Linked DNA regions of Homo sapiens. The protein of the gene in region 1 interacts with the protein of each later gene in a pairwise test. Each region holds a gene or a part of one and is shown in the gene's direction. Other genes may lie near its edges. The genes, in order: SLC7A8, SLC33A2, SLC25A46 and SIGLEC5.

The links.
Region 2: the proteins of SLC7A8 (region 1) and SLC33A2 interact in binary tests that used the Homo sapiens proteins (3 or more experiments, as listed by UniProt).
Region 3: the proteins of SLC7A8 (region 1) and SLC25A46 interact in binary tests that used the Homo sapiens proteins (3 or more experiments, as listed by UniProt).
Region 4: the proteins of SLC7A8 (region 1) and SIGLEC5 interact in binary tests that used the Homo sapiens proteins (3 or more experiments, as listed by UniProt).

What each region holds. Positions count from the first base shown.
Region 1 is NC_000014.9:23,123,549-23,133,319, reverse strand, and holds the end of SLC7A8 (large neutral amino acids transporter small subunit 2), read left to right. Parts: intron 1-1,762; coding exon 1,763-1,859; intron 1,860-3,520; coding exon 3,521-3,670; intron 3,671-4,955; exon of another isoform or gene 4,956-5,123; coding exon 5,124-5,301; intron 5,302-5,976; coding exon 5,977-6,143; 3' UTR 6,144-8,025; downstream 8,026-9,771. UniProt on the Homo sapiens protein: Associates with SLC3A2 to form a functional heterodimeric complex that translocates small and large neutral amino acids with broad specificity and a stoichiometry of 1:1.
Region 2 is NC_000008.11:144,501,272-144,511,713, forward strand, and holds SLC33A2 (major facilitator superfamily domain-containing protein 3), read left to right. Parts: upstream 1-7,798; 5' UTR 7,799-8,062; coding exon 8,063-8,744; intron 8,745-9,088; coding exon 9,089-9,236; intron 9,237-9,326; coding exon 9,327-9,451; intron 9,452-9,522; coding exon 9,523-9,632; coding exon of another isoform or gene 9,633-9,719; coding exon 9,720-9,893; 3' UTR 9,894-9,942; downstream 9,943-10,442. Other genes in the region: PPP1R16A (protein phosphatase 1 regulatory subunit 16A), read left to right, coding at 1-23, 249-632; GPT (alanine aminotransferase 1), read left to right, coding at 3,034-3,195, 3,333-3,422, 3,500-3,608, 3,727-3,860, 3,975-4,218, 4,577-4,656, 4,724-4,860, 4,961-5,135 and 3 more; RECQL4 (ATP-dependent DNA helicase Q4), read right to left, coding at 10,160-10,284, 10,410-10,442.
Region 3 is NC_000005.10:110,762,545-110,768,100, forward strand, and holds the end of SLC25A46 (mitochondrial outer membrane protein SLC25A46), read left to right. Parts: 3' UTR 1-2,613; downstream 2,614-5,556. UniProt on the Homo sapiens protein: Transmembrane protein of the mitochondrial outer membrane that controls mitochondrial organization.
Region 4 is NC_000019.10:51,609,553-51,615,399, reverse strand, and holds the end of SIGLEC5 (sialic acid-binding Ig-like lectin 5 isoform 1 precursor), read left to right. Parts: intron 1-1,350; exon of another isoform or gene 1,351-1,571; intron 1,572-2,406; exon of another isoform or gene 2,407-2,454; intron 2,455-2,977; coding exon 2,978-3,169; 3' UTR 3,170-4,440; downstream 4,441-5,847. UniProt on the Homo sapiens protein: Putative adhesion molecule that mediates sialic-acid dependent binding to cells. Binds equally to alpha-2,3-linked and alpha-2,6-linked sialic acid. The sialic acid recognition site may be masked by cis interactions with sialic acids on the same cell surface.

The sequences.
Region 1 (9,771 bases):
ACAGGCACATGCCACCACACCTGGCTAATTTTATTTTTATTTTTTGTAGAGACAAGGGTCCACTATTTTGCCCAGACTGGCCTCAAACTTCCGGGCTCAAATGATTCTCCCGCCTCAGCCTGCCAAAGTGCTGGGATTGCAGGTGTTACCCACCGTGCCCAGACAGGATATAATTTTTTTAAACTCAATCCCACAAGACAGGATATAAATTTTTAAGTACAATTTACATACAATAAAATATGCAGGCTGGGCGTGGTGGCTCATGCCTGTCATCCCAACGCTTTGGGAGCCCGAGGTGGGAGGATCATTAGAGCCCAGTTCGAGACCAGCCTGGGCAACATGGCAAGACCCTGCCTCAATTTTTTTTTTAAAAAGCAGATCATAGGCTGGGCATAGTGGCTCATGCCTGTAATCCCAGTACTTTGGGAGGCCGAGGCGGGCAGATCACCTGAGGTCGGGAGTTCGAGACCAGCCTGACCAACATGGAGAAACCCCGTCTCCACCAAAAATACAAAAATTAGCTGGGTGTGGTGGCGCATGCCTGTAATCCCAGCTACTCGGGAGGCTGAGGCAGAAGAATCGCTTGAACCTGGGAGGCGGAGGTTGCGGTGAACCAAGATCGTGCTATTGCACTCCAGCCTGGGCAACAAGAGTGAAACTCCGTCTCAAAAAAAAAAAAAAAGCAGATCATAAATGTTCATTTTGATGAGTTTTGTGGGGGTTTTTTTGTTTGTGTTTGTTCATTTTTGTTTTTTATTGTTGTTTTTTAGAGGCAGAGTCTCACTATGTTGCCTAGGCTGGCTTTGAACTTCTGGGCTCAAGCAATCTTCCTGCTTCAGCCTCCCAAGTAGCTAGAAATATAGGTGTGTGCCACTGTGCCTGGCTTCCATTTGATGAATTTTGACAGTTGTCAAAATTCAACCACTACCCAAAACAAGATAGAGAACATTTCCACCACCAATTCCCTACTCCCACAAAGACAACTAACTACTCTCTGACTAGGACAAGAGTGTTTTTAGGCCAGGCGCGGTGGCTCACGCCTGTAGTCCCAGCACTTTGGGAGGCCGAGGCAAGTGGATCACGAGGTCAGCAGTTCAAGACCAGCCTGGCCAAGATGGTGAAACCCCGTCTCTACTGAAAATACAAAAATTAGCTGGGCATGGTGGCACACACCTGTAATCCCACCTTCTCGGGAGGCTGAGGCAGAGAATTGCTTAAACCTGGGAGGCGGAGGTTGCAGTGAGCCGAGATTGCAGCACTGCACTCCAGCCTGGGCGACAGAGTCAGACTCCATCTCAAAAAAAAAAAAAAAAAAAAAAATAGAGTGTTTTTAAAGCTTTCCATATGCAGTTCAGTCCCAGTGTATTAGGGAATCTGCATCCTTTGAGGATGTGAGGAATGCTTTTAAAGAGATGAAGATTTTAGGCAACAGACAGAGGCTGCTCCTGCAGCCTTCCAGGCATTGGGAACACCCCACTGAGTGACAGTACAATTATCAGTAACCCTGAGCCACCCATACCACATTCAGGGTCTAACATACCCAGGGTTCATCCACTTTTCCACTGGCTGCCTCTGGTTTGCTTGCACCTGCATTTGTGAACACAGGTTCTGTGACTGGTGGGGTGGAAAGTATGCATGTGAAGGCGGGTGCCTGGTTGGAGTGGGGATGCCCCTGTGTGGGCAGAAGGTAGGCAAGGATGAAGGAGCTGGGGCTTGGTGGTCCCTGGGTTATCCCAGGCTGACCTGCTTTTCTCCCTGACAGGCTGTTCTTCGCTGGAGCCCGAGAGGGCCACCTTCCCAGTGTGTTGGCCATGATCCACGTGAAGCGCTGCACCCCAATCCCAGCCCTGCTCTTCACAGTAAGGGCCCTTCCTGCTGTAACTCTCCACACACCTCCCTCTCTTTGTGCCTAGTCTAAGCTGGGAGTTCATGCTTTTCACACACACCCCTGTTACCCTTGCAGTCTGCTGCTAGGTCTCACTGGATCTTAGAGGATCTGGCAAATGATACCCATCATCTTTGTTAATATCAAGAGATATAGCAAGGAAAGATCCTGAGTCTTGAAATACCTAAGGCTCTCAGGCTGACTTATTTCCGTTCTCCCATCCTTTTGGGTCAGACTGAACTGACTGTCTCAGGATTCTACAGCCTCAAAAAAAATATATCTCCCTTGGCTCTCCTCGCACCTGTTACCACAGGGTTGCAGCACTGGCCTCTGCTCCTGGCTGGTTGGTCCCTGCAAACACCCACTTCCCCCATCAAGCTTCAGGGCAGCCTGCCAGTCTCTTGGGAAACATCATTGAAATGAAGTTAGTGTTAACAGTACACCAAATACGAAAAATAATAGAGGAAGACTGATAAACTGGAAACTGTGCAAAGGAAACTTGGGACAGGAAAGAGATGGGAGTAAAATATCCCCAGAGTAGAATCATTTTGAGAGAGCTATAGGAAGGAACAAAGACTTGTCCCCATTGAGTCTTTTGAGTTATTTTTATTTTCCTTCTGGATCCTGAATAAAACACTAAAAATGACTTTGGTCCACTGGTGAAGCAGTTAGCAATCAGAATAACAGAGCTCTTGGGAGCCAAGAGCATTTTACAGCATTGCTGTACAATTTCAGAATGTTCAGATGCAGGATGAAGGTCACCTTGACTGGTTGGTTGTCGAAGGTGGCTGGAGAAGACAGTACTCCCAGTGGGCCACACACATTTTTTTGTTTTGTTTTGTTTTGTTTTTTCCAGTTAGAGCTATTGGTGCAGTAGTGTGACTAAAAGGCAGATGTAGCAAGAACCATTAAAATCTTCTCGATTATTTTAACCATCGGATCTCACAAGAGAACAGAACCTTTTGTTGACCTTCACAAGTTATCAGAGGGGAGGAGCATGGTTCCAAGAGAGCCACAGAGATGATTTTGAAGTTGGAAAGTAGACTCTGTCAAGAAAACCTCATAGGGATGTTATGAGGGTTAAGTGAGTTAATCTTTGTCAAATGCTAAACATAGAGACCTGGCACACAGTAAGTGCTATGTAACCAGTTTTGAAATTAATAAAGAAAAGGAAGGAAGAAAAATAGATGACTCAGCCAGGAGAAAAGGATGAGGGCAGGAATACAGCCTTAATCTGTTGTTAACAATCTTCCCTAAGGGATTTTAAAAAAATGAATTTAGCTTGAGCTATAACCAACAGAGGCATACAAATGAGACCGGGGCTGACACAGAGCCAGGTAATACCAGTGTGGCCAGTCTAGCTGCTTATGTCCAGTATCCATTCTAATTGGCTAGTGCCCGTGCCATACGAGTGGTTAAATATTTTGATCATCACCCCTGTAATAAGAAAGGATTTCCTAGCAATAAAGATGTTGTAACATATTGGGTTACTAGGGGAGGTTCTAAAGTCTCCATTTCGAGACATCCATTATACGATGGCATCATCTGCCTGGAGGCTGGGGGACAGCCCCTAATCTGTAATACCAGTCTCTGAATATCTTTCGGATCACTGATGAGCTCCTCCCACTTTCCCAGTGCATCTCCACCCTGCTGATGCTGGTCACCAGCGACATGTACACACTCATCAACTATGTGGGCTTCATCAACTACCTCTTCTATGGGGTCACGGTTGCTGGACAGATAGTCCTTCGCTGGAAGAAGCCTGATATCCCCCGCCCCATCAAGGTGAGAGAAACTCCCTTTGGGGTCCCCTCCCCTTCCTCTATGGTTCTAGCTGCAGTTCAGATTTTTAAATCACCTCTGTTCTTAGCTGCTGACCACACGTCATCATCTCTGATGGTAGCAGACCCTTTGGAAAGCAAGGGCCATTTGTGAATGGGACCACTATTTCCATTCTCCACTGGGGATGAGATCGGAGCAGACTGCAGCTGGGGAATAAGTCAGATCAAATGTGACTTTCATCATGACATTCCTTTGTTTCCTACCAGTCTAAGCCTTAAACTCCAGCTGACTTTTCAAGGTTCTCTTATCTCCCCAACACTTCCTCCTTGTCCCTCCAGATAGCTGGGTTCACTATGTGCTATGTCTCCATCCCAGAATGACTTCCTCCTCCCATCTGCCCATCTACATTTTAACCATTTTCCAAATGCGCCTCAAGTACCTCCTCTTTCTTGAAGTCTTCCAGTCTACTGCAACCTCCCATGATCCTCCCTTTATAAACTCCCACAGTCCTACACATATAGGGTGCTCAGTGAACCTAATATTGCTACAAGATATAACTCTGTGATAGGAATTAAAGGGATTGCTCAGAACAGGACATGCTAGAGCATTATGAGTTCTCCTACGAATTAGAAGAATAGAGTGTACTCCAGAGCTATTTGAACAATCCTATTCTAGAAACAGTGACTAGATGCTTCTAGAAGATCCTTCCAGCTGAAAAATCAAAGGCTCTCCAAATCTCTCAGTTCCTCACTGGCATTTCCACCGCCATTTTCTACTCTCACACTTAGAAAATCTGCTAGAGGGAAGAGGAGGTAGAATAACCCCATGTCCCCACCACACACATCCCTTCTGAGCGAGGAAGACAAGGAAGAGAAAGGCAGCCGAATCAGGACTGCCCCTGGAGCCCTGAAGAGGATACTCTCAGGAACTCCCCACATGTGGCCCATAAGGAGCTGACATTTGCCATATTGTGCCCACATAAGGGCCCTGCACAGAAGTGGGCAAGGACCAGGGAGCCTGAGTGACTCGAATCGTCTCCTGCCTGCACCTTGTGCATTGCCACACCTCCCCTCCACCCTAGGACCTCAGCAGACACACCCATGTGCCAGCAAGCTTCTCCATCCCTGTGGGCTTCTCTGGCTGCCACGGGCACATGGCATGCATGATGAGGCCTTGTCTAACCACACCCAAGAGCGAGGACATGGGCAAGGAGGATCGTTTCCTCCCTAACTCCTCCCCATCCTCTTCCTGTCTGACCGACCATGTTCATCAACATTTGTTTATATAGCCCCTGCCCTACCAGGGGTGAGTGTGGGACCACAGAGCCGAGGGAAGCCCAGCCTTTGCCCTTGAGGATGTGTCTCTGTGGGTGAAGAAGAGAGAGAATGCCCCAGTCCCTAGTCCTGGGGGCCACGTGGCCTACACAGTTCATACGCCTCATGCCTCTGCTCCACAGATCAACCTGCTGTTCCCCATCATCTACTTGCTGTTCTGGGCCTTCCTGCTGGTCTTCAGCCTGTGGTCAGAGCCGGTGGTGTGTGGCATTGGCCTGGCCATCATGCTGACAGGAGTGCCTGTCTATTTCCTGGGTGTTTACTGGCAACACAAGCCCAAGTGTTTCAGTGACTTCATTGGTGAGTTGTTGGAGGCTCTGGCTGGCTTCAGGGCCTCCTGGGCTGGAATGCAGTGGTCAGTGATGGGGTTGGGGAGCCACCAGGGCCAGGAGATCTAGGCTCACCTTCTCCTCAGTCCACAGAGCCCTGGAAGAGTCCAGAGCAGGGGAAGCAGATGCCTTTTCCCAGAGACCTCTGAGGGTAGAGAACAGCTGGCATTTCCACACAGACCTTAGACCCGCAAGAATAGGCAACCTGGGCTGGGCACAGTGGCTCACGCCTGTAATCCCAGCACTTTGGGAGGCTGAGACAGAGGATCACTTGAGCCCAGGAGGTTGAGACCAGCCTGGTCGACATAGCAAGACTCCATCTCTGTTATTAAAAATTTTAAAATAAAATAGGCAACCTGTCAGCCATTCTGTGAGAGCTGCCCGAGGCTGGGTGGAGACCAGAGGAGACCCTGGACTTAGGGGTCAGTGGGCACAGGGAAGGTGGGAAGGCTGGGGCCTTCATAAGCAAAGAGTAGCCGGCGGGAGATGCAGGAGGCAGACCAGGTGGCGAGGATTCTCTTCAACGCACTGACTGCTCTGAAGAGGCAGAACCTGGAGCAGGAGAGCCAGGAAGGGCCGGGGCCACTTGGCCAGGTTGGTGGGATACTCAGCATTGGCCTGGTTTCTGTGTGATCTCTTCCTACAGAGCTGCTAACCCTGGTGAGCCAGAAGATGTGTGTGGTCGTGTACCCCGAGGTGGAGCGGGGCTCAGGGACAGAGGAGGCTAATGAGGACATGGAGGAGCAGCAGCAGCCCATGTACCAACCCACTCCCACGAAGGACAAGGACGTGGCGGGGCAGCCCCAGCCCTGAGGACCACCATTCCCTGGCTACTCTCTCCTTCCTCCCCCTTTTATCCTACCTCCCTGCCTTGGTCCTGCCAACACATGCGAGTACACACACACCCCTCTCTCTGCTTTTGTCAGGCAGTGGTAGGACTTTGGTGTGGGTGGTGAGAAATTGTAAACAAAAACTGACATTCATACCCAAAGAACCAGCCTCTCACCCCAGGGTCCATGTCCCAGGCCCCACTCCAGTGCTGCCCACACTCCCAGCTGCTGGAGGAGAGGGGAGATGCCAAGGTGCCCTGCAGGACCTCCCTCCGGGCCACACCCTCAGCTGCCTCTTCAGGAACCGGAGCTCATTACTGCCTTCCCTCCCAGGGAGGCCCCTTCAGAGAGGAGAGGCCACAGGAGCTGCATTGTGGGGGGACAGGCTCAAGCAATTCTGTCCCCATCAAGGGGTCAGCTGGAGAGACCCAAGACCCTATCTGTTCACCAGGGACCCAAAATCCAAGGGGATGCTTCCCTCTGCCCTCTTTCCTGCCCCTCCCCATCATACCTGCACCCACCCCAGCCAGGGCTCCCTGTCCAGAATTCGGTTCTCCTCAGGACGCCAACTCCCAGAGCTAAGGACCAAGGAGAAGAACAGCCTCTCCACCCCCAAGCCAGGCGGTTGAGGAACATATTGAGAAAGGTTCAGATTGCAGAAACCCAGCCCTGCCCCTGCCTCCTGCATCCAGCCCCCAACATGGTGCCAAAGCTTCCAGAAGCCAAAAAGCTTCTGATTTTTAAGGTAGTGGGCATCTCTCTCCTAATGACGAAGCTGCTCAGCAACTCCACCTGCCCGCCGCAGGAAGGAGCAGTCCCCTGCTATCCCTGCAGCCACTCCCAGCACACCCGCACACAGCCAGCACCACCGCCCCCACCGTGCACTTCTCCTCTCTGGGCCTTGGCTTGGGACCAGGTACGAAGGATCCCCAAGCCCTTCAGGCCTGAGATCAGAGCCAGATCAGCCTTAAGTCACCTCCCATCCAAGAACTTGGCCTAAAAATACTCCCCTATTTCTAACCCTCAGGACGGATCTGATATTAAATGCCTTCCCTGGGAGGAAGGGTGCTTTCCCCCTCCCTAGAGGTGCCCATTCCATACCCTGGGAGACTGAGGAGAGCATTGGCTGAAGCCCAGTTCCTTTCCCATCCATCCCCAACTCCAATAATCCCCCACTCCTCGCAGGTCTCAGTGTCATGCTGTCTTGGGGCAGGGTGAAAGGGTAGTGGCAGCAGGGCGCCCACTCTGGAGATCCTCAAAAAAGGCCCTCCTCTGTGGCTGGCAGCCTCTGACCTTTCCCTGGGCTTCAAAGGAAGGCTATGGAGTTTGCTGTGGGCCCTGCAACCTTCCCAGCCACTCCTGCTGCACTAAGGACTTAGGATCCTTTTATCACAAATCGGGATTCTCTCCCCCACCCCGAATTCTGTCTGCTTAAACTGGAATACACAGGAGCCCTTCCTGGCCTGGATGGTGTCTCCCAGCTTCCCCGCCCAGCTTGCCCACCCCATAGTTGGTGAGATGCCAAGTTTGGTCTGAGTTGTGACCCCTTCAGAGTAGATGCCCGGCAGGCTGGGGTTGGCCCCTGGAGGGTCAGGGGACCATCTTCTTATTCCCTCTTTTCTCATTCCTCCAACTTCCTCCCCTCCTTCAATTATTTTTTTGTAAAGTTGATGCCTTACTTTTTGGATAAATATTTTTGAAGCTGGTATTTCTATTTCTTTTGGATTTTTTTTAATGTAAGGTTGTTTTGGGGGATGGAGTTAGAACCTTAATGATAATTTCTTTCGTTTGGTGTAGGTTTTAGAGATTTGTTTTGTGGAGAGGTTTTTTTCTTTTGATGTAATAAAATTTAAAATGGAAATGAAGTTGGTGGTGTTGGTAATTAAGTAACCTTTTGAGACAGAGTCACCAGGCATTTCCTCTTAGGAGATCTTGCCAGGTTCCTTCCAGAATGACATTCCTAAAAGCTCTCGCTCTCTGTAACTTCTAGCTATCCTAGGGACTCAATGCCAGTGCATTCAAACCACTGACTCTCATTCTGAACCAAAAACATCAAAAGACAAAAGTACAACGAATTTACAGATCTCAATTGTTTACTGTAATTCTGGAATCAGGCAACACTTCATTCCATAAAATAGAATACATATTCCAATGAGTTGAGCAGAAGAGGTTGGCTTTACAGACAGGGAGGGCTGAAGAAAGCTGGTTAGTCACTTTTCGAAGTTGCTTTTCTTGGCCGGGCACAGCGGCTCACTCCCGTAATCCCAGCACTTCGGGAGGCCGAGGAGGGAGGATCTCTTGAGCCCAGGAGTTTGAGACCAGCCTGGGCAACATAGCAAGACCTCGTCTCTACAAAAGATAAAATTAGCTGGGCATGGTGGTATGTGCCTGTGGTCCCAGCTCCTTGGGAGGCCGAGGCCGAAAGGAGGATGGGTTGAGCCTGGGAGGTCGAGGCTGCAGTGAGCTATGCTTGCGCTACTGCCCTCCAGCCTGGGCGGAAGAGCAAGCCCCTGTCTCAAAAACAAAAACAAATTTACTTTTCTTGTAAGGTGGGGACAGGGAGACGGAACAATAGAAAAATAACTGATTAGTTCATATCAGGATCCTTCAGGCTGCCTTGTTTTGTGTAAAGATTAAAGCAGAGGGAACTTCATTATCATGTCCATTGAATATTGAAACTGGCCTGTTTTAATTGGCTGTTATGTCTCTCTCCTGATTTCTAGGAAGGTCAGATAACAACTTAGTTTAGATTTGGTGATGTGGAACTTTAGCATGGGTGATTCTATTTTGATTTTTAGCCTGGTCTGTGGGGCCTAGGGCAGGAGCTTAGTCCAAAACCATGGCCTTCTGTAATTTTTTATTTAACAACACTGTCTCACTCCTTCTTGGAGTCATGAAGTGTTATTAAGTTCCTGCTCTGTGCACCGTACTGAAAGCCTGCAGACTAACTGGGAAGAAGTCAACATTGCCCAGGGTGGGACATGGGCAAGGGAGAGATGGCATCCAGCCAAGTTGAGGGAGGCAAAGGCAGATGTCCTCCCAAAGCCTGATCAGCAAAGGCTTCTCTCATCAGCACAGCCTGAGCCGAGTCTGTGGAGAGAGTCAGGGTCTGAGGAGCTTGATGGGAGGGCCTGGGAGGTAAGGCTAGGTTCACTCAGCTGGACAGAGCCATCTGAGAAGAAGAGTTAGCTCTAGGAGGAAGAGTAGGAGGACCACTGGACTAGGACAGGGGAAAAAGGAAAAAGTCGTTAAGGTATGTATAAGTACTTCCTGGCATTTTGGGCTAACTGCTAGAGGAAGTTGATGGGATTAGCCCCAGTCCTTGCTTTGTGTCCCTGTCTTTATGGGCCGCCCTCCTGGCTGCGTGTCCTGGGACAGTACCATTCCAGAGCCAGCACTGCTGGCAGATGTAGGGCAAGGGCGGGAGTAAGGGGGTGGTGGAGGGGCAGTGGTGTTAAGACATCACCCTTCACCATCTGGAACACTGTGAGGACACAGGCAGGCAAGATGCCGCCACTCCCAGTCCTGGCCTGACGCCAACACTCCTGCTTTGTGGCTGTCATTCTTCCAGACAGGCTGGAAGCTCGCCATTCAACAGGGACGCTGAGCTG
Region 2 (10,442 bases), on another chromosome or scaffold:
AGCTCAGGCCGCCGCCCCCGGAGGTGAGCGCCCCGTCCCTGCTCCGCCCAGCGCAGGGGTGGGCCTGGCTCTGCCCTGGTTCTCTCTCCGCTTGGACCCCCTCCTGCCTGTGTCAGGAATGGTGCCCTGCAGGGGCCAGCTTTTGCCCCATCTCTCCTGTCTGTCCCTTCATGACCATACAGCCTGAACCCAAGGCCAGGGAGGGGGGAGGAGCCTCCTGATGGCTCTGGGACCTTCACTGCCCGCAGGAGGACAACCCCGAAGTGGTCAGGCCGCACAATGGCCGAGTAGGGGGCTCCCCAGTGCGGCATCTATACTCCAAGCGACTAGACCGGAGTGTCTCCTACCAGCTGAGCCCCCTGGACAGCACCACCCCCCACACCCTGGTCCACGACAAGGCCCACCACACCCTGGCTGACCTGAAGCGCCAGCGAGCTGCTGCCAAGCTGCAGCGACCCCCACCTGAGGGGCCCGAGAGCCCTGAGACAGCTGAGCCTGGCCTGCCTGGTGACACGGTGACCCCCCAGCCTGACTGTGGCTTCAGGGCAGGCGGGGACCCACCCCTGCTCAAGCTCACAGCCCCGGCGGTGGAGGCTCCCGTGGAGAGGAGGCCGTGCTGCCTGCTCATGTGAGGCTGTTGCTCAGCATGCAGGGGCCCTGTCGCGGGCACAGCCCAAGGCTGCCTCCCCACGGTGCGTGCCCTGGTGCTGCGGGTGCAGCACGGAAACCCCGGCTTCTACTGTACAGGACACTGGCCCCTCTCAGGTCAGAAGACATGCCTGGAGGGATGTCTGGCTGCAAAGACTATTTTTATCCTGCAACTCTTGATAAAGGGCTGTTTTGCCATGGAGCCTCGTTGTGTGTTGTGTGTCTCAGCTGGGTCGCTGTCCCACAGTGGGGAGTGGGTTGTGCTGTTTGGCTGGGGTGCCACCCGTGCCTGTGAGCATGAAAGCCTGTAGGTGCGCGCTGGGGCATGTGGCAGCCCTGGCTGTGTGGGAGTGAGGCTCACAGCCACTGGGCTGGAAGCCTGGGCCTCACCCACTCCCTCCCATGCTCAGCCTCCTGGAGCCTCCTCCGTAACCCTTTGCTCTCCTGAGAGGAGCCAGGTGCTTTGAAGGAGCCTCCATGGGGGCCAGGGCCTAGGGTGTCTGTGCTGAGGGGCGGAAGGTGGGGGTCCCAGGGACCATGGCTTGGAAAGGGAGGTGGTGTTTTCCACAAGACTCTTGTGTCAGAGCCAGAGGGGCAAAACAAGCACAAGGCTGTGTCAGAAGCTCCCTGGGGGGGTTGTGGGTCCCCAGTTCCTGGCACGCAGCCTTAATCCTGGGGCCTGGCTGCCAGCTTCCGCCTGGGCTGGCATAGGGGACACGCAGTTGGCCACTCTGGCTCTGAGCTGGCTTGGCACAATGTGTCAGGGTGAGGGGGCCCCTTAGGGGCCTCAAGCAGGAGGGCTGAGGGCACCGCTGGTTCGTCTGTTCATGGTGGGCGGCTTTGTGTGGCCACCAGTGCTGGGTGGTGTGGGTTTGGGCTGTTCTCCCTCCTGGCTCAGCACGGGCCCGTCAGCCCAGTGTCCTTTGGGCCTGCCCTTCCCCTAGCATCCCTGGTTGGAAGGGTGTCCTCACAGGGCTGTGGGCGGGCCAGGGCTGGCTGCTGGTTAAATTTAGTGTGGGGGGTGGGGCAGCTGCCCAAGGTCCACCTGCCACCAGGGCTGCCACTTGGACTCCCTTGCCAGGGGGCGGGCAGGGGCTGGCTCTGCCTGGGGCCAGGCCCATGTTAACCTGTGCCCCGGCCTGGGGGCCAGAGGGGCAGGCCTGCGCACGGGGAGGCTGTTGTGGCAGCGGAACAGAGACGTGCACGGTGAGAGGCCTGGGGGCCGGCTGTCCAGGGCTCCCGATGGCTTTTCTCCCAGCCAGCAGGATCAGAGGAGCCAAGGTCCGACTTGGGCCTGGCTGGTTGCCCACAGCCCTGCTCAGAGGGCCGGCTCCCTGACCCCCATGGTTCAGGTTTCGGTGCCCGACGCTGGGGTGGGCCAGCGTGGAGCCTGGCCTTTCAGCTCAGCAGGCCTGTGGAGGTGGGGCTCTGACGGCCTATCCCAGCTCGTTTCCTACTCTCTCCTCCAATCGGGAACAAGAGGGCTGGAGAGCTCAGGTCACCCCTAGCCTCGGGTGTGTCCCAAGGGCAACCCCCAGCTGGTGCCTGGTGAAAGGGCATGACAGCAGCCACGGTGTGAGCTGTCCCAGGGCTCAGGGCTGGACTGCCTGGCTCCAGCCCCCTCCCCCAGCCCCTCGCAGTGCTCATCAGGGACCAAGGTCCAGCTACAGAGCTCTTGCAGCCTCTGGGCCATAGCTGCCAGCTCTGGAGGGTCCAGATGGAACCCAGAGCCTGAACACCCCTCCCCTCCCCCCAGCACCCCCTGGATTCCTGAGGCCTGGCTCAGTTAATAGGAGACAGGTCCGCTGGCCCAAGCAAAGATGCGGGTGCCACGAGGGCCAGGCCTCGGCCAAGCCCTGCTGGGGTAAATCCCAGCAGCCCAGGCTCCAGTCTCGCCTCGGGGGTCCCTCCTTGCCAGCTCTGCCAGCCCCTCAGGGCTGCTGGGCACCCCTTCACCTCCTGAGCACCCCAGGTGCTCAGCCCTCTCCCCCTCCCCCCATGTCTAGTCCCTCAGAGCTGTCCGGACTGACGTCTGTACCTACCCCCCATGTGGGTCTCCTGCTCTCCCTTCGTGGGGACACTAGGCAGGCACTGGGCCTTGCCCCAAGCCCCGCCTGCCACCTCACCCACTGCCTCTGCCTCCCTGGGGCAGAGCTGTTCCCAGACGGGTGGGGCGGGGCCCAACTGTCCCCAGCTCCTTCAGCCCTTTCTGTCCCTCCCAGTGAGGCCAGCTGCGGTGAAGAGGGTGCTCTCTTGCCTGGAGTTCCCTCTGCTACGGCTGCCCCCTCCCAGCCCTGGCCCACTAAGCCAGACCCAGCTGTCGCCATTCCCACTTCTGGTCCTGCCACCTCCTGAGCTGCCTTCCCGCCTGGTCTGGGTAGAGTCATGGCCTCGAGCACAGGTGACCGGAGCCAGGCGGTGAGGCATGGACTGAGGGCGAAGGTGCTGACGCTGGACGGCATGAACCCGCGTGTGCGGAGAGTGGAGTACGCAGTGCGTGGCCCCATAGTGCAGCGAGCCTTGGAGCTGGAGCAGGAGCTGCGCCAGGTATGGCCCAGGGCCCCTCGCTGCCCTCCAGGTCACAATGGGGTGGCCGAGTTGGCCCCAGCCCCACTGGCACATGGGACAAGGGCTGAGGGGTTAGGTAGGGCACAGTCTCCCTGCCTGCTCCCCTCCCCTCCCAGGGTGTGAAGAAGCCTTTCACCGAGGTCATCCGTGCCAACATCGGGGACGCACAGGCTATGGGGCAGAGGCCCATCACCTTCCTGCGCCAGGTGAGGCTCCTGCACTGCCCGGAGCACCCCCCCACCCCCAGCCCATGTGCCCTGGCCTCAGCACTCCGTCTTCCCAGGTCTTGGCCCTCTGTGTTAACCCTGATCTTCTGAGCAGCCCCAACTTCCCTGACGATGCCAAGAAAAGGGCGGAGCGCATCTTGCAGGCGTGTGGGGGCCACAGTCTGGGTGAGAGCCAGGGCCAGGAGGAAGCAGAGGGCCGCCCTGCCACTGGAGGAGGGAAGTCCCTTGGGAGGGCTGAGGAGAACTTCACCTGTACTTCCCATCCTGTCCTGCCCGAGTCCAGGGGCCTACAGCGTCAGCTCCGGCATCCAGCTGATCCGGGAGGACGTGGCGCGGTACATTGAGAGGCGTGACGGAGGCATCCCTGCGGACCCCAACAACGTCTTCCTGTCCACAGGGGCCAGCGATGCCATCGTGGTAGGCTGGGCATGGGCACCAAGACATTCCTGACACTGCAGAGGGGGCGCCCAGGGTGGGGGACAGGTGCGGCCCCAGGCCTCGCCAACCCTGCCTTCCCCTTCCTTTCCGCAGACGGTGCTGAAGCTGCTGGTGGCCGGCGAGGGCCACACACGCACGGGTGTGCTCATCCCCATCCCCCAGTACCCACTCTACTCGGCCACGCTGGCAGAGCTGGGCGCAGTGCAGGTGGATTACTACCTGGACGAGGAGCGTGCCTGGGCGCTGGACGTGGCCGAGCTTCACCGTGCACTGGGCCAGGCGCGTGACCACTGCCGCCCTCGTGCGCTCTGTGTCATCAACCCTGGCAACCCCACCGGTGCGTTCCCCGCCGCCCCGCCCCACTCCCCCCGCGCCCACGTTGCGTTCCCCGCCGCCCCGCCCCACTCCCCCCGCGCCCACGGTGCGTTCCCCGCCGCCCCGCCCCACTCCCCCCGCGCCCACGGTGCGTTCCCCGCCGCCCCGCCCCACTCCCCCCGCGCCCACGGTGCGTTCCCCGCCGCCCCGCCCCACTCCCTCCGCGCCCACGGTGCGTTCCCCGCCGCCCCGCCCCACTCCTCCCGCACCCACGTGCGCCCTGGCCCAGGCAGTGCCGGGTCCGCTGGACCCCGGCTGCCCAGCGGAGGGCAGTGCGCCCCCTTGGCTCACCCAGCACTGCTGCCTCCCCGGCACCCCAGGGCAGGTGCAGACCCGCGAGTGCATCGAGGCCGTGATCCGCTTCGCCTTCGAAGAGCGGCTCTTTCTGCTGGCGGACGAGGTGCGCGGCGCGGGGGAGCGGGAAGCCGGGCAACAGTCCGCCCCCGTGACGCCTTGCGCCCTTCCAGGTGTACCAGGACAACGTGTACGCCGCGGGTTCGCAGTTCCACTCATTCAAGAAGGTGCTCATGGAGATGGGGCCGCCCTACGCCGGGCAGCAGGAGCTTGCCTCCTTCCACTCCACCTCCAAGGGCTACATGGGCGAGTGCGTGCGTACGAGGCGGGTGGGGGCTCGCGGGCCATGGCCAGGCCCTCCTCGCCCGATGGGCCACCCCCTCCTCCGCACCTGACCTGGCCGTGCGCAGGTGCGGGTTCCGCGGCGGCTATGTGGAGGTGGTGAACATGGACGCTGCAGTGCAGCAGCAGATGCTGAAGCTGATGAGTGTGCGGCTGTGCCCGCCGGTGCCAGGACAGGCCCTGCTGGACCTGGTGGTCAGCCCGCCCGCGCCCACCGACCCCTCCTTTGCGCAGTTCCAGGCTGTGAGTTGGGGGCAGGAGGGGGTCCAGGTGACCTAATCAGGGGTGGGGGATGCCGAGTGCCGTGCCCTGATGGGCCCTCCCTCCGCGGCCACAGGAGAAGCAGGCAGTGCTGGCAGAGCTGGCGGCCAAGGCCAAGCTCACCGAGCAGGTCTTCAATGAGGCTCCTGGCATCAGCTGCAACCCAGTGCAGGGCGCCATGTACTCCTTCCCGCGCGTGCAGCTGCCCCCGCGGGCGGTGGAGCGCGCTCAGGTCAGGCGGGGGCGGGGCCTGCGGGGTGGGCAGGGGGGGCCGGGCATCCCTCTCTGACGGCTCTCCGTCCACAGGAGCTGGGCCTGGCCCCCGATATGTTCTTCTGCCTGCGCCTCCTGGAGGAGACCGGCATCTGCGTGGTGCCAGGGAGCGGCTTTGGGCAGCGGGAAGGCACCTACCACTTCCGGTGAGGCCTGGCCCTCACTCCCTGTCCCGCCACCCTGGCCCTTCACTCACTGTCAACTCCTTTCAGGATGACCATTCTGCCCCCCTTGGAGAAACTGCGGCTGCTGCTGGAGAAGCTGAGCAGGTTCCATGCCAAGTTCACCCTCGAGTACTCCTGAGCACCCCAGCTGGGGCCAGGCTGGGTCGCCCTGGACTGTGTGCTCAGGAGCCCTGGGAGGCTCTGGAGCCCACTGTACTTGCTCTTGATGCCTGGCGGGGTGGGGTGGGGGGGGTGCTGGGCCCCTGCCTCTCTGCAGGTCCCTAATAAAGCTGTGTGGCAGTCTGACTCCAGGGAGGAAGCGTTGGCAGCTGCGTGGCCCGCTCCCACCTGCCTACCCTTCTTGCAGGCCTGAGTCCCTTCAGAGAAGGGACCTTCCACGGCCACCACCCACCTCTTCCTCCTGAAGACCCCGTGCCCACCATAGGCTGGGTCTTCCCTCTGGCCTCTGGTTGTGGGGCAGAGCCCGTCAGATCACACAGAAATGGGTTGAGAGGGTCCAGAGTGTGAGGAAAGCGCAGGCCCCACACCCCTTTGTGGAAGCCCCCAAGAATCTAGGGAGCCAGGGGCCCAGGTGGCCACCCGAAGAAACACAGCCTTTCCTGAGGAAGGCACAGTGAACTGCCTCCTTCCTGGCTCCCTTTCCTGTGAGGTCCATGTCTTCCCTGGGGCAGGGGGAAATACTAAACCAGCATGGTGCTGGCTGGTCAGGGTGACTGACAGCTCAGGAAGGAAGTCTTGGTTCTCTTACCCAAGGAAGCAGGGGTGGGGCCACTGTCTGGGGGGCCAGAGACCACCTTTGGTGTCATTGTGTGGTGCAGTCCTTCGGCTGGGTGGAGTGGGAGGCAGAGGGAGAGGATAAGGGAGCGTCCCAGGGGAGGGCTGGGGCTGGAGGAGGCAGGGGCTGGGCTGAGCGGGAGTGGGCAGCGCTGTGTCCTGGCCTGGGGAGCATGGCTGAGCACCTACTACATGCAGACACTGCTGGGGGGTCACTCAATCTGCACAGATGCTCTTCTGAAGTAGGCATGATAGTCCCCATTTGATAGACGTGGAAACCTGCAACCCAAAAACCTGCTGAGCTGACAAGAAACCCCCTCAGAGGCCTCGGCAGCCAGAAAAATGCGTTGGGTCCAGTGCCCTCAAGTCCGCCAAGGACAGGGCTGGCTTTAGAGACTCACAAACTTGGGAGATAGGACTGGCCAAGGGCACCTGGTTTTTTTCGCTCTGGAGATGGTTCTTAACCACAGGCCACACACACTTCACAGCCTCATCTGGCCCTCGGGAGCCCCAGAGGGCACAGCTCTGGGCAGGAGACACAGCAGGTGGGCCCCTCCCTTGGCAGGGCGGGCTCGAATCAGGCAGGGTGCTCCTAGCCTTGTCACCGGACACCGAAGGGCGTCACGGGCAGTGGCTGGCGGTGTCCTTCTGAGCTAAGCTGGGTCCTGACCTTTCACACTTCCCTCCTAACTTCCATGGCTCTGTCACCGCCTTACGGAGGAGCTGAAGCCACAGACACAGCAAGGTTGGGGTCCGCACCGGAAGTATCCAGTGGTAGACGGCGGAACCCTTAAGAAACGGACGCCTTCATGCGGGCGGCTGGAGAAGCGGGGGCTGGGCACTGCAGCAACCACGCTTCGGCTGACACCAGGAAGGAAGCACGCCTGGAGCGGATCCGAAACTACTGAGAGGGGCCAGGGCTGGCCGTGGGCGCAGGCCGATCCTTACATTCGAGGCCGGCCCAGCTCTGTAGCTTCCCCCTCTGGGCCTCTCACCCGCGCAGGACCTCGGTGGGAGCGCGCACGTGGCGGGGCGGGGGGCCGCGGGCCCGAGCCCGGACTGGCCACCGGGGGCGCCCGCGAGCTGACGCTCTGGCCCGTTGCGGTCTCTGTGGCCCGCGCGACCTTCCGGCCCTGGAGCCGGTGGCCGCGGGGCTCCAGCGACGCCGTGTGGTCCGTGCTCCGCTCTGTGGCTCCAGGGGGCCGAGAAACTGCTGAGAGTCCGGCCCGGCCGGCAGTGCTGGGCGCGGGCCGAGGGCCCCGGGAGGCAGCGGCCCCGCCCTCTTTACCTGCGGCCTCGCAGAGCATGCTGGGAGCCGCGGGAGGCAGTGGCCCCGCTCCCCTCACCTGCGGTATCGCAGAGCATGGTGGGAGCCCCGGGAGGCAGTGGCCCCGCCCCCTTCCCTGCGGCCGCGCAGAGCATGCCGGGAGCCGCCGGCCGCCGGTGTCCGGACCGCTCGCCCCCGTTTGGACCCGACTTCGGTTCTTCTGGGGTGTTGATGCTCCTAAAGCCCGAGAGCACGTGTCCAGACCCTAGCCTGTACGACGCTGACTCTGCCCGGTCCCAGAACCAAAGCCATGCCGGGGTGTGGCCTCTGACCCCACGCGGAGGGGACCTCGCCTTGCGGGACCCCACCTGGAACCCGACCTCCCAGCCTCGCAGCCGGCCTGAGCCGCCATGCGCGGGAAGTTGCTGCCGCTGGCCGGCCTCTACCTGGTGCAGGGCCTGCCCTACGGGCTCCAGTCCGGCCTCCTGCCAGTGCTGCTGCGTGCCGGCGGCCTCTCGCTGACGCGCGTGGGGCTGGCCAAGGTTCTGTACGCTCCGTGGCTGCTCAAGCTGGCTTGGGCCCCGCTGGTGGACGCGCAGGGCTCGGCGAGGGCCTGGGTGACGCGCAGCACGGCGGGCCTGGGCCTGGTGTGTGGGCTGCTTGCCGGGCTGCCCCCTCCTGGAGCTGGCCAGGCCGGGCTGCCCGCCGCTGTGGCGGGGTTGCTGCTGTTGTTGAACCTGGGTGCCGCCATGCAGGATGTGGCCCTGGACGCGCTGGCTGTGCAGCTGCTGGAGCCGGCCGAACTGGGGCCGGGCAATACCGTGCAGGTGGTCGCGTACAAGCTGGGGGCCGCGCTAGCTGGGGGCGCGCTGCTGGCGCTGCTGCCCACCTTCTCGTGGCCGCAACTCTTTCTGCTCCTGGCTGCCACCTACTGGCTGGCCGCGGCCCTGGCCTGGGCTGCACCAGCCCTGCGGCGGCTCCCACAGCAGCCCCCTTCCGAGCAGCGTCCCCACACCGCGCACCTTCTGCGGGACGTGCTAGCCGTGCCGGGGACCGTGTGGACGGCAGGCTTTGTGCTCACCTACAAGCTGGGTGAGTGAGGCCTCGAGCCAGGCAACAGCAGTTGGGGCTTCCGGGACAGCTCCAGGTGTGTCCCCAGGGGCTTGCAACCCATTACAGGGCCACGCTCTTTCTGGGGTATGACCTGCAAGACTTGGCCCTGACATCCGGGGCTCTGCAGCTGGGCCTTGTGTCTTGTCCGCCCCCAGCTCTAGCCCCATCCCTGAGCGCTCTCTCGGGCTGCCCCACTTCTCCCCCAGTATCTGCAGCTCTGGAACACTGAGGAGAGCAGGGCAGGACTGAGGGCCCAGGTGGGGAGAAGGGAGGTGGGGGCAGATATGGAACCTCCCGTGCTCATGCCCCCCCCACCACCCAAGGTGAGCAGGGTGCCAGCAGCCTGTTTCCTCTTCTCCTGCTGGACCACGGCGTTTCTGCTCCCGAGTTGGGACTGTGGAATGGTGTGGGTGCTGTGGTCTGCTCCATCGCTGGCTCCTCCCTGGGTGGGACCTTGCTGGCCAAGCACTGGTGAGCCCTCCCCAGTGTACCCTGCCCACCCACTTGTACCTGAGCTGCCCCCAATCCACTATACTGACCCATTTCCCACCCCCATCCCAGGAAACTGCTGCCTCTGTTGAGGTCGGTGCTGCGCTTCCGCCTCGGGGGCCTAGCCTGTCAGACTGCCTTGGTCTTCCACCTGGACACCCTGGGGGCCAGCATGGACGCTGGCACAATCTTGAGAGGTGAGGGGCTGGCCTTGAGGAGGAAGAGAGGGGCCAGGAGCCTGGGGCACTGCTGACTTCTGCCCTCCCAGGGTCAGCCTTGCTGAGCCTATGTCTGCAGCACTTCTTGGGAGGCCTGGTCACCACAGTCACCTTCACTGGGATGATGCGCTGCAGCCAGCTGGCCCCCAGGGCCCTGCAGGTGAGTAGATGTAGCAGGGACACAAGAGAGACCACGGGGCTGGGGCTGTGTGGGCCTGACCTTGACCGTGACCCCCACCCCCCTCAGGCCACACACTACAGCCTTCTGGCCACGCTGGAGCTGCTGGGGAAGCTGCTGCTGGGCACTCTGGCCGGAGGCCTGGCTGATGGGTTGGGGCCACATCCCTGCTTCTTGCTCCTGCTCATCCTCTCTGCCTTTCCCGTTCTGTACCTGGACCTAGCACCCAGCACCTTTCTCTGAGCTGAGTGGCTGGAGTGGTCAATAAAGCCACATGTGCCTGTGGCCCAGATGTCTCTGTGCCTGGAATATGTGATGTGCTTGTCCCCAGCTTGTGGGGGTTGCCTCATTGGCCAAGAGGGCCCATAAAAACAAAGTGAGCATTTTTTATTCTGCATTTTGGAGCCTCCTCGTTCCCACACCCTGTGGCAGGTTTTGCCCAGGTCCTCAGTCACTGCCCTAGCCTCTGACAACCCCAGCTCTACCCGACATCCCCCAATGCAGTGCAGTCAGCGGGCCACCTGCAGGAGCTCTTCCGTGGCCAGGCCCACCAGGGCATGGAAGCTCAGGTGCAGGTATTTTCTCCAGAAGCGTCGGTCCTGCCCGTACACCTGGGCCGGGTAGCAGGGGCTTCCTACGGTGGAGCCAAGACACAGCCGTGAGCCCCAGCCCCAGCCTGCAGCGGGTGGAGCCTCCCAGGCCTCACCTGCCCCAGCCCCCAGCCCCAGCCTGCAGCGGGTGGGGCCTCCCAGGCCTCACCGATGCCGTGGAAGATGCGGGCCACAGCCCTGC
Region 3 (5,556 bases), on another chromosome or scaffold:
AACCCAGTGTTTCAGTGCTAGCAACTTAATTTCTCATACATTTATAGAGTTTGGTTTGCTTTGCTAGTTGTGTGAATCATTGGGCTGTTTTTAGAGCCACTGTTAAGAGAGAATATAAAATAATCATGACAATTACTACTGTTTCCACATTTACAAATTGTGTACTTAAATGAACCTCATTTCCCTTTTATTTCTGAATGGCTTGTCTGAGAGGAAACAAAATTAAAATTCATCTGGGAATTTGTGCCTCTTGTCTAGTATATAGTCACCACTAAATAATGGCTTCCGTTTTTATTTTCTTTCAGGTTTTGCTTTAAATTTTGTTTTCCAAAATAGATGTACGTGGAGGGAAAAGCAATTATTCTTATCACCTTTTATTTAAACTTCTTTAGATGAATACTGAAGAAAAATCCAAACCTTAAAGGAAATGTGCCCTTGTATTTTATGGGTGAGGGGAAAAAGTACATTTGTACATTTCAACATATAATAAGCAAAAAAATTACTAATCAGTTTAATAAAAACATTTTGTCTATTCCTAAATGTAATTTGGTGGGTTAAGCACTTTGTGTAGTAAAATGATATGTGTCTGCTCTATCATTAGACATTTTAAAGTTTCATGTCTTCACGTGAATAATCACAGTTGTATCATGAACCATTTAGCGCTCTGAAGCACAGTGACTTTGCACTGATATTGTCCAACCAAGAATGCATACGAATAGAAATTCATTTTACTTGCTAAATGTCACAGAAATGGTTACTTTTTGCAAATAGTAGTGTTGGAACAAAAAAGTGATATCCAAAAAGTGTAAAAACAGTAATAAGTAGCAAATCTCTCGTGTGTGTGTGTGTGTAGTTACTGAAACACCTACATTTTCCATTTTTAAATTCCACCAAAAGGGGGAAAATAAAATTAAACACCACTGATCACATTTTATATTTTATGGTGACTATTTTAGATTAAGGTTTACTTTGTCCAACCAATAGCATTTAAATTGTTTTCAATTAGGATAGTTTCAGATAAGAGTAAACCAGAAAATTTCAAGTTTGAAAAATTTCTAGAAAAGAATCTGAATAGAATCAAGTATTTACTAGTGAAAATCTGTAGGATCCTTTGTTTAGCTAAAAATTAAATATTTCAGGATATTTTTTGGAAGTTAGCATGAAAATAGTTAGTTACATAAATTCATTTTATTGTAGAATAATTATAAGACTGATAGGCTGAACCATACACAAATAAGGTTGATCTTGTTTTCCTTTTTGGAGAAAGAGAATACAAATTAACATTAAAATTGAAATGTAGAAAGTAAAATATGAATAATTTTTTACAACCACTCCAAATTAGTTGAAACAAAATCTTGAACGGTCACGCACTTAAATTTAAGCTAGCCAAATATGTTGCACTGAATTTTGAAAAGAATGAGTGAGATAACTGTAAGATACGCTCGTTCCCTTTTAAAAATTGTTATTTTTCTTTAACATGGGTGCCAAATCAAATATCCATGGGCTATACTTCTTAAGATAATAACAGCTCAAAATAATATTTTTTAATTCAGTAGAACTAATAGCATTATGGAAAAGATTCTATTAAATGTTCCACAGGCCCACTGGTCCTCTTATATAAGCCAAATTTTGGCCATGGAGCTTGTGATACACTTGCCTTACATTGTAGGGTTTCTTAATTTGAGTCAAGTACACTGAAAGCAATTAAAAACTGGTAAATATTAATTTACTATGTAAAGTGAACTTACGAATTAACTTACTAAATACATATATGTAGACCTTCCCGAAATGCCATTCTCAATTTTATTTTATGGGCTCCAAAAAAAATTATCTGGGTTAATAAGGTTATCTATTAAAGCCCCCAGAATCTCAGCACTAGATGTCATAAATATGAAATAGTAAAAACAAGGTCACTTGAAAATGGGTATTTAATACCTTAGCTGGTGTTTTCAGAAGCATACAGAACTGGAAAGGTAAGAACTTGCTTACTATTGCAGATATACCTGACCACTCACAACTGTCTTTTTAGCAGCAGCTTTGTTAAAACTGCACAAAGCATTCACTTTATTGATTGAGTACAAATGCTTTAGTGTTTCTACCTAAGTATTAGTACATCTGTTCAGGAAATGGAAAAAAAAAATGCTGCTTAAATTTGTTTTATCAGCTGAGGTTGTGGAGGATTTTTGTCCACTGATCTTTTGCAACAGAAAAGCATACTTTGTCAGCTTCTAATAAGATAGCCAGGTTTGAATTATTTGCAAAATTTATATAAGCAAATAAGATCTCTTGGTAACAATTGACATTGCACTAGAATTTGAATGATACTGTTGTTGGCATTTCTGTTTCTCTTTCAAGTAGTTGTAAATAATCTCTTTTTCTCATATAAACGGAATGCATAATGTCTTACTCTTGAGTCATTTAGTATCATTGATATGGTACCAAGTTGTATAGCAGAGTAACAAAATCATGATTTGACAATGAAATTTACATATTGCCTCACCTAGAGATGTTTTGTCTGTATGACTTTTTTTTTTTTAAGTTTGTCTTACTGTTACTTTAAATGTTTTGGGTAAATTGTGTAATATGAAAAGTTCAATAAAATGTCGAAATAAAGCCACTGTTTTTCTCCTACTGATGTGAGAGAACTATTCAGGCTGGTGGTTAAAGATGAAGTATATTTTTTTAGGTAGAAAGGAAGATCAACAAAATATGTGAAGTTAAACTTTTTTGCACACTATTTTTTAAAATCTCTATAGCCTCCTCACCACATCCCTATGACATTTTTGGAGTTGTGCTGTTTGATTAAGAATAAAATAGATACAGAGAGGAGGTGATTTGTCCTGCATTTCACAACTAGGAGAGTAACAACAGAAAAATGACAAATAGGCAGCTCCAGACTCCCATCCCTCCATGGAAAGAGAAGAAAACAACCAGAAACTGTCAGAACCAACTTTGTCAGACTCTGGAAAACAGTCAAAAGTTTACAGCAACTATGTGAATGTTAAATCAAGAAAAAGGCAACTTATTGTTAGGAAAGCTTTGTGGCTTTGACTTACCTTGGCTCCTGTCTTCTCTGTGGTTCAGTGGCATGGCAGTCTTAAAAATGGCAGCTTGGGTGCCCAGTGTGGGACCTGACCCTTGGTTCTAGAAGGAATAGAACAGACATAACTTGCTGGAAGGGAGTAAAACGATGTATTTATAATGCTGGAAATAAGTAATTTCTTTAAAAGGTTAAATAATGTTATATCTAGCAAAACTACCCTTCAAGAATGAAGGCGAAATTAAGACATTCCCGGATAAACAAAACCTAATGAAGTTTGTTATTAGTAGAACTTTCTTACGAGAAATAAAGGGAGTACATCAGGCTGCAAAGAAAAGACAATAGATAGTAACTTGAAGTCATATAAAGAAATAACACAGGTAAATGTAATTTTATAGGTAAGTATAAAAGCCAGTATTACTGTACTTTTAGTTTGTAACTCCACTCTTTCCTGTATAATTAAAAAGGCAAGTGCATAAAAGTGAATCTATTTTAATGGTCACACAATATATAAAAATATATCTATGACAAGAACAATATAAAGTGAGAGAGATGGAGATGTATAGGAGCAGAGTGTTTGTATACTACTGAAATTAAGTTGATATTCAACTTGTTGTTACATGTTTAAGATGTTGTAGCCCTTGAGATAAACACCAAGAAAATGACTTTAAAAACATACAGAAAAGGGAAGAAGGAAAACAAAATGGTATACTATTAGGAAGGCTGAGGCATGAGAATCACTTGAACCCAGGAGGCAGAGGTTGCAGTCAGCCAAGATTGCACTCCATTGCACTCCAGCCTGGACAACAAGAGCAAAACTATCTCAAAAAAACAAAACAAAACAAAACAAAAGCTCTACTACCAAACAAATCAGTTAATACCAAAAAAGACAGTGATATAGGAATTGAGAAGTAAAAAGCATAAAGATAGAAAACAAATAGCTAAATGGCAGAAGTCTATCATCTGCAGTTACTTTAAATGTAAATAAAAGGCGAGTGGCAAAATTGATTTTTTTAAATGACATATCTGTACTATGTCTACAAGAGACTTATTTTAGATATAAAGACACAGAGTTTGAAAGAAAAAGAAAAGCATTTTCCGTGTAAATTACGAAAAGAAGGGTGGCTGTATTATCAAAGACAATAGATTTTAAGTCAAAGTGGTTAACGAGACAAGGACATCCAACAGAAGGGCTAGGGGCACCATGTTCTCACTAACTGATGAATTGCTTCTTAGCTTAATTTCTACTGGAGCCAACAATGGAAGGCTTCTGAGAGCTTTTGGTAGGTCTTTCCACAGTCCTCTGCATTCCTTTCCCTTCTCCAAGTTGGTAACAACCTGTCTCAATTCTTTGTAATATAGGGACCTTGTAGTTTGTGAGCATCACTCAAGCTCTCTAAATTTTACACTAGAGATCATGTTTTCTCTCCCACTTCCACTATACAATACATAGACATAGAAAAATAAATTACATGGACATAATAAATGTGGAATACATGAATGAACCATAAAATTGTGCACTCATTCTTGTCTACGTATTTTCAAACTTGTTCCCTTTTAGCTAAGGATTTCAACACTTTCAAGTGTCAAGTGACCTTTAGAAGTCATCTCCCATTAAACCTCTCATTTCATAAATGTGTAAACTGAATCCTAAATATGTTTGGTGATTTTACTAAGGTCACAGAATAACAGAGCTGCTACTGCAACCCAGTTCTTCCCACTCCCAGACTAGTCTTTTTCCCCATTACATCACCCTGCCTTTTCTCTTTTATTTACCACTGAGTCTCTCCTTTCTATCTATACATATCTATACATAGAAACACCTGAAACTCTGAACTCTGTGATACTTAATAAACTCTATTTCAAAAAACAAACAAAAAACTATTTATACTTTCCTTATCTCACTTGTTTTCTGTTTTCATTCCATCTTTTGTCTTCCTCACTGGCTTCAGTTTTTAATTGTCCTTAGCATTTTCCAAACTCTGTTATAAGTCTTTATTATTTTGTATCTAGAACATGTCTTCCCACTATGTACTACTTCAATTGGCTCCCCAATATTTATCTTCAGTCTTGATCTCACCTCTAAGCTCCAGACCCATATCCCTATTTCATTTGCATTGGTACTGTGTTCCCCACTGCTGCCTCAAATTCAATGTATTAAAAGCTAAATTTATTATTTTTCTCATAAACTGGTTCTTCCTTTCCCACAGTGTTATAATTTTCCAGTCATATACAATCAAAATTTGAAATCATCTTCAGTTTCTCCCCAGATCTTTCATAGTCAATTATCTAAGTCCTATTATAAAAGAAGACCATGCCTTCGGAGCCTGGAAAACCTGGCTTCGAATTCTAGTTACATGCCACACTAATGAGAGCTCTGATACTCAGTTTTCTCATCTATAAAATGAGGATAAAGCCTTCTTCACTGAAGGTTACATGAGAGTGTCTTTTAAAAACCTGCAATACTGAAAATGTTCACCTTTCCAATCTCCTTTCTACCATAAGTTGTTATTATC
Region 4 (5,847 bases), on another chromosome or scaffold:
AGCAGAATTCAAGTATGTTTGGGCTAACCCATCCTCTCAACAAGCCAGCTGTCCCCCCGCCCAGTTCTCCCACCCCTTTTCTTCAAATGAGCCTTAACTTTCCCCTAGGGATATCAGTGTGATTGATTGATCATAAATTGATTTGTAAAGTTTTGTTCACCCAGGAGCTCCATCTTTAGTTCCATCATTGGTAGGTCTTGGAGAACAGAGCCGGTGTATGAATTCACTCTTTTGACAAGAACTATGGTAGAGAGAGCTTTGTTTTCTCCTTTATTTTACCTTTAACCATTCTGCACACTTTCATGCCATAGGCAGAATGGTAAAGCGAGGCACAGCATGGTCCCTGGAGTTTGACGTCCTGCATTCAGGTTCTAGATTCACCCACTTGCAAGCTGTGTGACCTTGGATAAGCTAATGAACCTCTCTGTTTTTTTGTTTTCTCCTATAGAAATTGGGTTATTAATATGCTAGTATCTGTCTCGGATTGTTACAAGGAGTGCTTAGTAAAGTGGCAAGCTCACAGGGAGCTCACTTATAACTGTTACCCAGTATTACTTTTCCTTCTGTCTAACAAGGAACTGCATGACGGGGAGGTATTTGGGTGGTTTCAGTCTGCTTTATGTCCTCATTTATACGAACGGCATCTAGCCCAAAGAAAGCACTCAGCAAAGAGCTATTGAGTGAAAGGGTGAACATACTGCATTGTCCTATTTACTAATCTGAGCTGTGCCTTTTCTTTCAGTTGTCAATTTCACCCTTTTTATTTCATATACCGCACACCTATTGATAGACATATGTCTTTATTTCTTCCTTTGCCTGCATAATGCTGGTGTGCATAGCCACTTTTTCATTTTATTTCATCTTTCTTGTGCCTAATATAAGCAGCTCTCTCCAGAAAGTCTATTTTTTTCTGACACAATGAAGCCATTTTTCCCTAACTGCGGAGTCCTTTTAAAAAAACTGTATGGCCAGGTGTGGTGGCTCACACCTGTAATCCCACCACTCTGGAAGGCTAAGCTGGGCCAGTCGCTTAGCCCAGGAGTTTGAGACCAACCTGGGTAACGTGGCGAAACCCTGTCTTTACAAAAATTAGCTGGGCATGGTGGCTTGTGCCTGTGGTCTCAGCTACTCAGGAAGCTGAGGTGGGAGGATTGCTTGAGCCAGGGACGGGAGGTTGCAGTGAGACGAAATCACACCACTGCCCTCCAGCCTGGATGACAGAGTGAAACTCTGTCTCAAAAAGAAAACTTCTGAGCTACTGTTTGAAGACTCACGTTGCTTTCAACATATTTTCCATAGCGTGATGGGTAGGGATATGGGTGAAGGTGGGAGAGGAAAGAAATTGCTTACTTGTATCTGGTTACCATCTTTGCTGGGGACAGGATCTGCTCCATTTTGTTTCTCTTTCATGGAAACTGGGTCCAGGATCAGAATTGCCATCTCTTTTCTGGTTTGCACATAAGACACCTTGTAACCTATGCCGAAGGTATACATTTGCTTCATCAATAATCCGCTCCTCCTGCCTAGGTCAGGGTCTATGTCTGATTTCTCACACTGTACGTGCCCAGAACCTGAAACAGGGGAGACAGGGCTGAGTTCGAATCCTGGCCTCGCCATGTATTAGATGAATAACCCTGGGCAAGCTACTTAACCTCTCTCCACCTCAGTTTCCCTGTGTGTAAGGTGGGGATAATTAGAATATCTTTTATACTGTTGTGGGTTTTTTTTTGGTGATGATTCAATGTGATTAGTAAGTCCTCAATATGGTCTGATCAATCATAGTATTACAAAATTTTGAAAGAATGAGCGAATAGTTGAGTTCACAGGAAATGTATATGGACAGGTGGGGCCGGGATTTGAACCCAGCCCTGTCTGCCCTGTGCCGGTTCCTGGGCACGTACAGTGTGAGAAATCAGACATAGACCCTGACCTAGGCAGCCTATGGCCTGTCCTTAGGAGGAGTGGATTATAAAAGGATGAATTGATAAATGTCACATCAGCCCAACTTCCCTGTGGGAACCATTTGTTGTATTTTTCTCTTATTTGGTGTTGAGGTCTCTCTTTGGGGAGTGGTCATAAAATCTAGCCCGGCCTTGAATGGGAACCCCAGAGATCTGGCCATCATGTTCACAGTGTGACTTTCACAGAATACTCCTTTATCCTGGCACACCACCTGCTGCCTGAGTGCCCAGCCTGTGACCCCCTCTCACAGCAAACTTGTTTATCCTGGCAGATTCCCTTGCAGCTTTCCTATGACCTGTGTCCGGTTTATTCCCACCAAGACAGCTATTCTCTAGGAGAGCCTTGACCAGAAAAGAAGTGAGGTTCAGGTCTGTTGGGCGGGTGGGACACAGAGGAGACAGCACAACAAAACACATGAAATAACAGAAGCAGTTTATTACTCACAGGTCCCAGAGAGAAGATAGCACAGCAAGCCTGGAAGGGCGAATGGAAAGGAGGGAACTGACCAGGACGCAAGTGCTCATCCAGTGGGTAGGGGGCAAGAGAGAGAGAGAGAGAGAGAAGAACCCATGAGCCAAAGCCTTAATTAGAGTCCAGGGCATAATCTAAGCAGGCTTCCCACAGGGAGTTCTAACTGGGGGTTTAGAGCTAGCAGGCAGGAGTTCTGTGGAGCCACACTGTGACTGAGAGGTGGTTGCTGCAGTATATCTGCGCAGCCTATGAGGGACACAGGAGTCAATACGTAAGTCAAGTAGGTTGTAGCTGTATGTCCCATAGGGAGCTGGTCACAAGGAGATGGTTGTATAAGGCAGACATTTGGATTAACCACCTTGGGGAACTGGGAGGAGGTAGAGAATTGGAAATTGTGTCCAGGTGACTAAGCCCTGCTTCTGGCATGAGAAAGTCCAACTTACATTCAAAATAAATCCCAAGGCAACATATAAATATAAGAACTCATTATTCTACACCTGCCTCTTTATTCCTACTGTGACACCTTTCCTTCCCCTTTACTCAGGGTTCCAGGAAGAAGCCCTGGCCAGACAGCCCCGGAGATCAAGCATCTCCTCCTGGGGATGCCCCTCCCTTGGAAGAACAAAAGGAGCTCCATTATGCCTCCCTTAGTTTTTCTGAGATGAAGTCGAGGGAGCCTAAGGACCAGGAGGCCCCAAGCACCACGGAGTACTCGGAGATCAAGACAAGCAAGTGAGGATTTGCCCAGAGTTCAGTCCTGGCTGGAGGAGCCACAGCCTGTCTGGGGGAAAGGACAAGTCAGGGACCACTTGCTGAAGCACGAAGAGCCCTTGTGGCAATGTTAACATTAACTGATGTTTAAGTGCTCCAAGCAGATGGAATTAGAGAGGTGGGCTCAAATCTAGGCCCTGGCACTGTCATCAAGCAATTCACTGCATCCCTCTGTGCCTCAGTTTCCCATTCTGTAAATCAGAGATCATGCATGCTACCTCAAAGGTTGTTGTGAACATTAAAGAAATCAACACATGGAAATCAACCAACATGGGTCCTGGAACAGGGCGTTGTGCTCAGTGCTTTCTGGTCTCTCTTCCTTGAATAGAAAGGTCCTGCTGGCAAGTTCTCTCAAGGCTGGGGATGACCAGGCACAAAAAACAGGGCAGCAATATGTTGGTGTCACTCCCCTTCCCAAAACTCTTCGAAGACTCCCTAGGAAAGACCAGCCCCTCAGCCTGGCACTTGGTTCATGATGTGGGATCTTATATCCTTGCCAGAGTCATATCTTTGCCCACTTTTACCTGCAATCCTTGCATCATATTCCTTTGGCTCCAGTCCTTCATTTATGAGACCCATAGGAATCCTTCCAACAGCCAAAGAGTTGAGTCTAACTCTTTCCTGCCCAAACCCATTCACGGCCCCCTGGCCTTAGACAATATATCACAAGCATCTCCCCTGACACATAAAGTCCTTCATGATCTCCCTGCTATCTATTCATTTATACTTTCCTCTTGCCTAACCCTTCCTTAAGCCTTTCATGCTGGTTCATACCACACTGTCTTTGCAATTTGAGATTCCTCCTCCTGGAAGCCATGCCTCCTTGCTTTCATCTGGCTTACACTATCTTTTCCTCCAAACATGAGTTAATGGGTGGTCTTGAGTTGGAAGAGTGGACTGAAGAAAGAACTTATACTCTCCCTCCTCTAAAATTGAACTAATTTATTTTTTAAAATGCTAAACCAAAAGCAGCTAAAAATTCTCCAGTTACTTATCTAGGGTATCTCCAAACCCAGATAAATGACAATGTTAGAAACTTCAGCAAGTGGTCATGAGGAAATGAGTGGATAATTCCAGTGGAGTACTGGGAGGACATTGATTCTCAATATCTACCACCCAAACTTCATTTTCATCACTGTAAAGAAGGTGAATTGTGACTACTGTTTTGGTTATGACAGGTTAGATAATTTTGATCAAGCCTTGTGTTGAAAATAATAAAATCTTTTGGGGAAAAAATGAGTAGAAAAAGAATCCTTCCCTTAAATAGTATAGAATGCCTGAAAAGAAAATGGAAACTTAGGCCAAAATTCTGGGGAAAGGCTGAACCCAGAGAAGTAAGCAGAATCACTAAGCCAAAATTCCCAGGGGCATTTGCTCATATTGAAAAAGGAAGCTTTGGTTCTTTGGTCTTGCATGTGGCTCTGGAAATGAAGGTTAAGTCTGTGGCCCAGCGAAAGGTTGCAAATGTCAAAAGAGACCATCCCTACATTGGGTTTGTGTCAAGGTAAGGCTGAATCAAAACTGAAGACAAGGAAAAAAATCTGAACAGCTACCAGAGAAAAAGGATCACCTTCAAAAGAAAAGTCATTTAATTGACAACTGAATTATCAGTAGCAACCTGGAGAGTAGAAGAAGGCAAATACTATTTCTAACATCAATTTGCAATCTATACTCAGTAAAGTCAACTCAAAAATGAGAAAGCAATAATGATCTTTCAGAGCAAGTAAATGGGGGAGCTTTAATAAAAACAAAAGATAGTTTAGAATTCCTGACAATCACAATAGTTAAGTACCAAGGTAAGTGTATTTTACATGTCCCAATATCCATATATTATCCAGGAGGAGAGAGAGGTTTTCATTTACTAAAGACTTTGATAGGTTAATAAGGCATGCTGTAAATTTTTCTCATGACGGCTAAAAGAACAGAATCATAATATATAACTTTCAACCTAGTGATCACTAAAGGTATACTATTAAAAACTTAGTAAACCAGCCAGGCGCAGTGGCTCACACCTGTAATCCTAGCACTTCGAGAGGCCGAGGGGTGGAGAATCACTTGAGCCCAGGAGTTCAAGAATAGCCTAGGCAACATGGCAAAACACACCTCTACAAAAAAGTACAAAAAATTTAGCCAGGCATGGTAGCATATGCCTGTAGTCCCAGCTACTTGGGAGGCCGAGACAGGAGGATCACCTGAGCCCGGAAGGTGGAGACTGCAGTAAGCCGAGTGATAGAGTGAGACCTTGTCTCAAAAAACAAACAAAAAGCCAAACAACAACAAAATTACTTAGTAAACAAAACAAACAAACAAAACGGAGAAATAAAGTAATGTAGAATTGGTGACACATACAGAAAACAAAATATAACATGGGATATTTATGTTAAATATAATTGGATAAATGCTTCAGTTTAAAACAGAGTCCACTTGGATGGATTCCAAGTATATGATCTTTACAACATATACACGTAAAGTACAAGGATAGAGAAGGCCAAAAGTGAAAGTATATTATGCCGACATTAATAAAAGGAAAGCTAGTGCAGTCCTATTTGGCCATACAAAATACACATTACCACATTGTTCCATTTGTGTGAATGTTTAAAGCAATTATTCTTGCTTAAAAATATATACACAGGTATTATGCTT